Linked DNA regions of Homo sapiens: all the other regions are linked to region 3. Evidence: fine-mapped expression QTL. A gene starts in region 3. Each other region holds a variant in brackets. All regions are shown on one strand. Distances are between the middles of the regions.

Region 1 (2,754 bases), 30 kb before region 3:
GTTCCTAAAAAAGAAAAAGAAAAAAAAGTGAGGTCGTTTCTTCTCCAAACTCAGCTCCAAATTAACCACACACAAGAAAAGCAGTCTCATGGGATTGAGACCCACGGGGGAGAAAAAAGGACCATCTAATACAAGGACTGAGGAATGCCACAATGACATACACCTGCTGTAAGCTCAGGTCCTGCCCAATAATTTAAGATAACCTCAAAACATTTGGGATGGATTAGTCTATTCTCGGTGAACACAAAATCTCCCAAATGCTTACCTCTGAATCCGACACTGGCGGAGAGTCCTCCAGATCGGGGATGGCCTCCTGCCTGGGGGCCGTCTTCTTGCTTTCATTGTGCAGTTTAGTTCTGGACTCCATCACCTGAAATGAAAAAGACGAAACAGAGCTTAGGCCTTGTTTTCTAGGAGGAAAGCATCGCTTATGCAGCCGTCTATGAATTTATTTCTATTAAGCTCGAGTCCTGGGTGCCTCCGCAGGTACCCCTCAGCACTCACAGATCTCGCTGGCCTCTCTTTCCACGTGGAAAGCTCTTTAGATACAAGTTCTTCTGGCTTCAGTCTCACAAGTTTCGCCAAAGAGATTTCCTCACGCAGAACACGATGGAAGAGTCCCTATAAACAAGTATTTTTCATTTACTCAAATAATATTCCTATATCTGTCAATACAGAGAGCTTCTGGAAAACACAGCTGCCCAGAAGTTTAGCGGGCACAGGACAAAGGCCCTCAGGGCCCACTTGCGTGTGGCACTGGGCAGAGCCCTCCCTGCAGGGTGTGACCTAACTCCCCAAACGGCCTTATGAGAGTGCGCCCCAGGATATCCCTGCTGTGAGCAAATGGGAGCCCAGAGAGCACAGGTAATAAGGTTCAACAGTGGGTTTCACGGCCTGTGCTGCACTGGCTCTGCTAAAAAAAAAACAACACACAACACCTCAGGAAAAACAATTATGTACACAAGGTGGACACAAGTCAAAAAGGTAGCGTCAGGAACAAAGGAAGGAAGAAATCATTTCTGTTTAGGGCTGTTCAATGGTGAGATGCAAAGTCAGGGTATTTCATTATCCTAAAATTCTAAACAGGGAGGAGCCTGGAGGCCGATGGAGAGAGAACACCACAAGGCTGTCAGCCCGGCGGCCTATCCCTCCCAGCTGGAGTTTCTGTCCTCGTCGCATGGCCCATGCTGCAGTGAGGAAGGACTGATCCCACTACCTGGGCGTGAGCAGCCCCTGCTCCAAGTGGTGAGAACTCAAGCAGCCCAAACCATCAGGCTCACTCGGCTGATGAGGAATATGAGAAAATAAGGTGGAAAAGGCTGTCTGAGGCCGGAATACGGACACCCTCATACACTGGGATGAAGAACTGGACTTTATTTTGGAGCCCAGTGAAGCGACTGGCTTGTACCTTTACAGCAATGTTTACAGGAGACTAATGTGGTGATAAAAGGTGGACTTCAGGGAAGCCAGGAAGCGGACGC[G/A]ACCCTAGTTAAGGCAGGGAAGGGAAGGGGTTTCCAGGACGCTCAACGCCAGTGCAACAATACGTGGGCGGCAGAAGGATCACAGAGGAGAAAGAAACGTCTTAGCTTTCCTGGAAAGGACACGAACATCTCAAAATATTGGTTGATCCCTTTAGCACCCAGCGAACAGAACAGGAATACTCCAATGCACCGACACCAGGCACACACCTGATTTTTAGGGTCCTTCAGGTTGAACATGATGCTGCGATATTTACTCTTGTAGCGATTATCTGTAACTTGAAACAAGTTAAACATCTCCTTCTCAATATGGAGGGCAATTTTTCCTACTTCGTTTTCTGTCATGATTAAGTCATCGCTGTCATTGACTCTGAACAGAATAAAAAAAAGGAACTACATAAGACACTTGTGTATATTAAACTTTTTGAACAGTGAGGCAATCCTGCAGCCACACTCTAATGAAAGCCCTTCCATTTTAATGGGTAAGAAATCAAGCAGAACAGCCCACCTTTTCCACAAAATCTCTTTTAAGGAGCGTCTGATATTTTGCCGAATTTGTGAATTTGGCTGCGATGGTGCAGCACTCATAGCCCCAAGGCGTCCTGGGGCTGGCGAGGCCATTGGAACAGAAGGTACCACTGGCTTCCTTACGGCTCCCACCAAAGCAGCGGAGCCAGGGAACTTCTTGGAGGCAGCCGTTGCCGCTGCAGGTGCCGGTCCGGCCTGCCTGGCAGCTGAAGCACCACTCGATGGGGTAGCGGAGAGCCATGGCCTCTTGGGGATGGTGCCCTTGAAACCTGAGGGTGGCTTTTTAATGGCTGGTGTGGCTGCTGCCACATTAGCAAAAGAAGACTTCTTTGGCACGAGGTTTCTAGGTGCAGGCTGCTTGCCCACCGCGGAGCCTGGAGGGGCTGTTTTCTTTGAGGCTGCCATGGCTGCCGCTTTCTCCTCGGACCTCCTGTCTTCCTTCGTGGCTACAAAGAAGAACACAGGCGCTGAGTAAGGGAGGACACCACAGGGTGCTGTCACCTGACTCTAAAAAGCAGACTTACCCTTAAACCTGTAAGTGCCCACCTGGCATTACTGAATAGGATACACATAGAGAAAAGGATTTGTAAAATGTTAGTGTTCAGAGGAGTGTAAGGGAGGACCGCCAGCAGCATTTATGACGGTGACTACATTTTATTTCAGAAAGAAGAATGCTTTATTATTCTATCTTTTACCTTCAACCAGCAAACTCTAGTTATTAAAGGCTTGACTTGCGCACTAGCTAAGC
Region 2 (2,754 bases), 35 kb before region 3:
ACTGCATGGCCACGGAGACACTTCAGTTGGGCATCAGATACTAACCCCTAACTGAAGTCACATCAGCTTCTTCTAAGGGGCTATGAAAGAGCTGGTCACTAACAGAGCACGTGGCCCCTGGAATCACCCTCAACCCTTGACAAAGATGTATTTTAGGCTATTTGTAAATAATCGTTTAAATACAGTACTTTCCAAGGAACGTGCAAACACAAAATAGCTTGCCAAAGATGAATGAACCTATTACAATTTGAGCTGCAGATTTTAAAATAATTATTTCTAGAAATAGTTTTCTATGTCATTATTGTTAAGTCTCCTGGAAATCCATCCCTGTTAGAGAAGTGATCCCTGATGGAGCCACTTCCCGGTGTGTGCTGGCTCCCGAGTCTGTCTAGAGGAAAGAGCAGGGCCGCTGGGAGTGTCACCTCCCTTTCTGGCTGAGCCTTGGGCTTCTGGGCACTGAGTCTTCTCTGACCTGAGGCCAAGATGAGCTGGTTGCAGGCTGTGGGTTTTTCCCTCTCTAAAAAACTCTCCTAAGACAATTTATGCTGTGAATCAGGGGTACTTCTCGTGCCACAGTCCTACGCCCTCAAAGATGAATCCTATTGCTAACCGCTGCGTCTGTGCTCCTAACTCCTGCTCCCAGAGAGCCCTGGGCTGGTCAGGACTCAGCAGGGCATGTCAGTGGGAGGAGGGGTGCAGGTGCAGGTGGGCCTCACCTCCACCCAGAAAGCCGGCGCTTACCTGGTCCCTCAAAGGGCAAGAGTTTGGATGGAACAGGGTCCTGGGCGCTCAGCGGGATCAGGTAGAGGTCCTTGACGTGCCTGTTGTTATTAGCTACAACACCAAAGCGGCCACGGCTGCTGAAATAGGAGTAGAGAGAGATATAGGCGACCTCCTCTTCCTCTGTGGCGGGGTGGAAGCGGATCAGACAGAGCTCCTGCAATGGAAGAGTGGGAAGCACTCATAAAGAAAATGTGGCTCAAGCATCACACGCCCAATTCACATCCTGCTTTCAACAGGAAACCTTGTCAGATCTCTCCGACTCACAGCCACGATCTCACAGAGCTGCTGTCTCAGTGAGGCAATTCACGTGACATGTGAGCCCAGCAGTGTCTGGAGCCGAGCCGGCTCTTCCTACATGCACGACGGCCCCGGTCACGAGGAACCAGCTGCATGATCTGCAATGGCTGTCTGTGCCCCTCCCTAGAGGGGGTTAAACTAGACGACAGGGTCTAGCCCTTTCGTGAACCTGACGAAGACTACAGAGATTCCCCAGAGAAAACCACAGACAGACACGCACAGCTGTAGCTAAATCTCAGGGGGTCCCAGAAAACCAG[A/G]ACCGTTCAAGAGCCCAGGTTGAGTGCCCTGAGCCTGATCACCCCTGCAAAAGACACCTTCTGCTCCTTCAATCATAAAAAAACAAGAAAATAAAACGTATCTATTTCTTCCTAAAATTTAACCGCACATACATTATAATAAATCAGAAACAAACTTCTACCGCGGCACACTCAGACACCTTCACACAGTCATACAACTATGTAAACTTTTTTTTTTTTTGAGACAGTCTTGCTATGTCTCCCAGGCTGGAGTGCAGTGGTGCGATCTCGGCTCACTGCAAAACTTAATTTTTAACATTCACCTGGAAATATCTAGTAAGCTACAGGCTAACATTTTAAGTGTTAACCCATCCAAACGAGAGGTTAAAAAAAGATGTGTTTAAATCAACACAATTTTCCATGGTTGCAGAATTTATACTATAAGCAGGTACCTTAGACACAGAAGACTTGAGTTTGCCAACATAATCCCAAACTGTCTTCGGTGCGATCCTCCCACCAATGTGAATTGTGTCAGGCAAATCCTAAACAGAAAGTACTTTGCGTAAATCACTTTGAACTGTAGTAGTCACAGAAAGACGAATGCAGCCATGTGAAGGCACACACTACCCAAGATTCAAGAAGACTACAGCTATTCCAAGGAAAAGAGTCACACTTGTATTAAATGCATTAAGTCCAGGATGACAAGTGGCCAAATCCAAAGGGGGAGTGATGCCAACCTTCTGCCAGACAAGATTATGTTTAGAAATGACTGCCCAACACTTCTATGCTGTCTTTACGTACATACACAGAGAGTAACGATTCACTATGAGCCAGGGTGACTCCTTGCATTAAAGTCATAAATGCTAGTGCTGTCTTCTGGTTAATTCTGAAAACTAAAAGGCCTGCCACGGGGTCATATGCGCCACCCCGCAAGTGGCCAGGTGTGTGTAAAGCAGGCTCCGAACACCTGGCTGTGCCGGTGGCTGTGCGCACAGCCATGTGGTCAGTGCCCCAGCGAAACCGATCACTGAGAGGCCAGACTGCAGGCTCACATTTCCGACCCTGTCCAAACTGCTGAACCTGCGGACTCATCACGGCCATCGCCACTTTGCATTTAGAGCCGTTTCTGCATCCAGACAGACGGTTGCAAGAGTGTCAGGCATTTCTGTTTCTCTCCTACCTCATGAATTAAGGGAGAAAGTCATGTGTTTGACTCTAGTTTAGAAACTCCTATGAAAGACACACACACGCACACACATTTTCTTGGTTCTAACCTCACTGAGGTAATCAAAACACCCAGAGACAGGATACGCCTTAGTGACAAATTTTGCCACACTCTGCATGTTAATAAATCCTTTCCAAATGGTGCTGAGTCGAGACAAAAAGAGGGTCGTGTCTCCCTCTGGAGGGGAACGTGATTCTGAAGTGCTGTAAAACA
Region 3 (2,754 bases):
GTACACAGCAAGTAGGAAAACAAGTGTGCATTAAGCAGGGAGTTTCACAACAGGGCTGTGTCTGTCTTCCTGGGTGACACTTCTGAGATGTCTATGCCGTATTTAAAATAGTGAAATAGTCACAGACACACATACACTAACAGCAACCCAAAGGGCCACTAAAGAGCCCTAGGCTCCAGGTAAACGAGTTGGCAACACCTGATTTAAAGGAAGGAGCTGGAATAATCTCTCAAGTTCCCCAGTGAACTTGTCTCCAGGACTGGGACAGGGGCCACCTTGGTCACTGCTGTATCCCTCGTGCTAACAGTAAGCAATGAATGCTCATTTAAAAAAAGACTGTATTTACTCCTTAAAAGGCACTGCTAAGGACCTTTCTCAGAACTGTATTTCAACCAAGTCATATGTGGCCCTACGGAAACCATGGAACACGGGGTATATAGCAAAGTTATGTGAATATACCGAAAAGACGTTCCCATCTGCCTTTCCCTCCTCTAAGTCCCTGAGTACACTAGGCTCAAATCTCATTCCATCAGCAGACAGATGACACGGATATCGAAGGCCCAGGCACAAGTTAAAGAGTATTTTCAATAACTGGTAACGCAGTAAGCTACTGCTACCTGTGGCCCAAACTCTAAACTTATATATTAAAGTCCTTTATTTAGAGCAGAAAAGCCGGCCTTGACCTCCACTGTCTCAGAACCGCGAGAAGGAGCCCCGGACGCCGCAGCGGAGGCAGCACGAGCACCCCTCCCGCCGAGCGCAAGAGCGGGCCCTTTCGGCTTCCGGGGTCACTGGAAGGCAAAATGTGTCACAAATACGGCCAGTACAAACCAACGCAACAAACTATTCCACAAAAAAACTGAAAACCAGCGCGGGGAGGTAAGGACACACTCTTCAGAAAAGCGAATCCGGGCTCTTCGCGCTTCCTGCAGCGCCAGCCGCCCCTGCAGTGCCGGAATCCCCCGAAGGCACGCCAGAAGCTAAGCCGGCCACCCCGACCGCACCCAAGGCCCGGGAGGAAGCGCCGAGGTCCCCGAGAATGCCTAGGGAAACCAGCTGCGCTTACAAGCCAGCTACGCAGCCCCCGAGCCCCGGGCCGCACTCGCCCAGGCCAGCCCTGCGCTCTTCCCCGCGAGCGGCCGCCCCGACTCCCACCCTCGGAACCGTTCCAGCCGCGACCACCGAGTGCTCGCCAGTCCCCTCGACCTCACGCAGCCCACCAGGGCCGGCGTCTGAGGCCCGCGCCCCAGGCCGCGGCGGCTCTGACCGGCCCCGCCCGCTCGCCCGCCCGCCCGCCCGCTCCTTCCCTTCCGCGGCCGCCATCTTCTCGGCGGGAGCGGCCTGTGCGGGATCCGCGGCTCTCGCCAGCCGGGCTCCGATGCCGGCCCCGCCCCGCTCCCGAGGGCGGCCCAAGCGGCGGCCGGCTCTTCTACCCGGCGCCCGGGACGCCACTTACCGCAGGCCGCAGGCCTCTAGGGTCTCGCAGCCATTTCCCCGAACGCCGCGGAGTGGGCGGACGGCCACCGAGATGGCGCGGGGCTAGAGCGGCGCCCCCGCGCGGCGGGCGGAGGACGAGACCGGCCACCGAGACGCTGCGGGGCTAGAGCGGAGCCCGGGCTGCGAAGCCCGGCCCCGGACTGCGCGCATGCGCCCGTCTTTCATACCTGCACTCCGGACGCGCCCTTCGGGTCTGCACTGACAATGACTTGCTTGCATCCTTTGTGGACACCTTATTTCCCCGACTCCAAGAGTGAAAGCTGGGGCAGTGCCCTTGCGGGGATCCCTCGGAACAGCCCGGGCAGGGCGCAGGCGGAACGTGGATGCTAGCCCCGAGGGACTGCACTCCGCCAGGATTTCGCTCTTAAGACCGATAAACCCTTCAAGTCGGTGGGGATAGAAAGCTCCTGGGCTAAATTTGTAAGAGGTGTAGGGGGGCGGGGACAGGGGATAAAAGAAGAAAAGGCCCAGGTTTTCTCTTCCAGATTGTGTTTCTCAAAACGCAGGCCCCTGACGGCCTCGGCTGGGAATGGCAGCGAGGGGCGAGGTCCAGGTGTGGGCGGGGTTTCTCTCCAACTTGAAGACCCTACCTGCTGCCTCCCCACCCCAAGCTCGGCTCCAGAAACCAGGAGCGTGGGGGTGGGGGGGAGAGAAAGGAGCACAGCGAGGAAGGGAGGCGGGCACGCTGGACCTCTAGGCCCCAGGGACCTTGGCGGTGTGGTCCCAAAGCTCTGCCTCCTCCCACCATGTCAATCCTACACTCAGAACTACTGACCAGTAGCTAGAACTCAAAGAACGCATGGACATGTTTGCCCACAGGGGTTGGAGGGAAAGATTAGACACTTACTATCAAGAGAGGGGAAAGTGAGGTATGGTAGATGTCAACCTTCCATGTGGATTTTCTTCAGTTCGCTCAATAGTAACTAGAGTGACACTCTATCACCTGTCTGTCCCCAGATACTGCAGGAAAGAGACTGGGAGGGGGCAGGAGGGGCAGCTGTTGCCTCGAGGCACCATGGGCACTGGCCACTTGCTCCGAGGGCAGGGACCTGGGGGGGGTGGAGGTGGCCCCATTACTTGTTTCTGCTTCTGTGAACAGTGATACGCTACCTGGAAGCATGGACCATCTAGCCTTTGGCGTTGGCCCTGGCCAAGAGTAAAAGGGGCCCAGAGTGCCGTAAAGCTGCCCCTAATACAGAGGCTTCTGCGATGCTTCCATGGATGAACCAGGGGCTTTGAGGCAGGTGTGCTTTTTAA

Evidence for each region. PIP is the estimated chance that this variant, and not a neighbour inherited with it, causes the effect.
Region 1: its variant is fine-mapped to the expression of DIDO1 in whole blood (INTERVAL, PIP above 0.99).
Region 2: its variant is fine-mapped to the expression of DIDO1 in whole blood (INTERVAL, PIP above 0.99).

Annotation. Positions count from the first base shown.
Region 1 is chr20:62,894,545-62,897,298 of GRCh38, forward strand. It overlaps DIDO1 (death inducer-obliterator 1), which reads right to left. Exons shown (of 16, transcript NM_001193369.2): 7 at 1,987-2,452; 8 at 1,689-1,848; 9 at 505-621; 10 at 266-370; 11 at 1-4. Among named protein-coding and RNA genes, the nearest start is that of SNORA117, 13 kb to the left of the region's middle. The variant G/A (reference allele first, on the strand shown) is at 1,482.
Region 2 is chr20:62,890,219-62,892,972 of GRCh38, forward strand. DIDO1 (death inducer-obliterator 1) reads right to left here. Exons shown (of 16, transcript NM_001193369.2): 13 at 2,591-2,744; 14 at 1,769-1,858; 15 at 742-937. Among named protein-coding and RNA genes, the nearest start is that of SNORA117, 8.7 kb to the left of the region's middle. The variant A/G (reference allele first, on the strand shown) is at 1,338.
Region 3 is chr20:62,924,976-62,927,729 of GRCh38, forward strand. It overlaps DIDO1 (death inducer-obliterator 1), which reads right to left and starts at 1,530. Exons shown (of 16, transcript NM_001193369.2): 1 at 1,464-1,530. RefSeq lists enhancers at 406-1,019, 628-677, 1,020-1,633, 2,516-2,754 and silencers at 1,118-1,207, 1,278-1,717.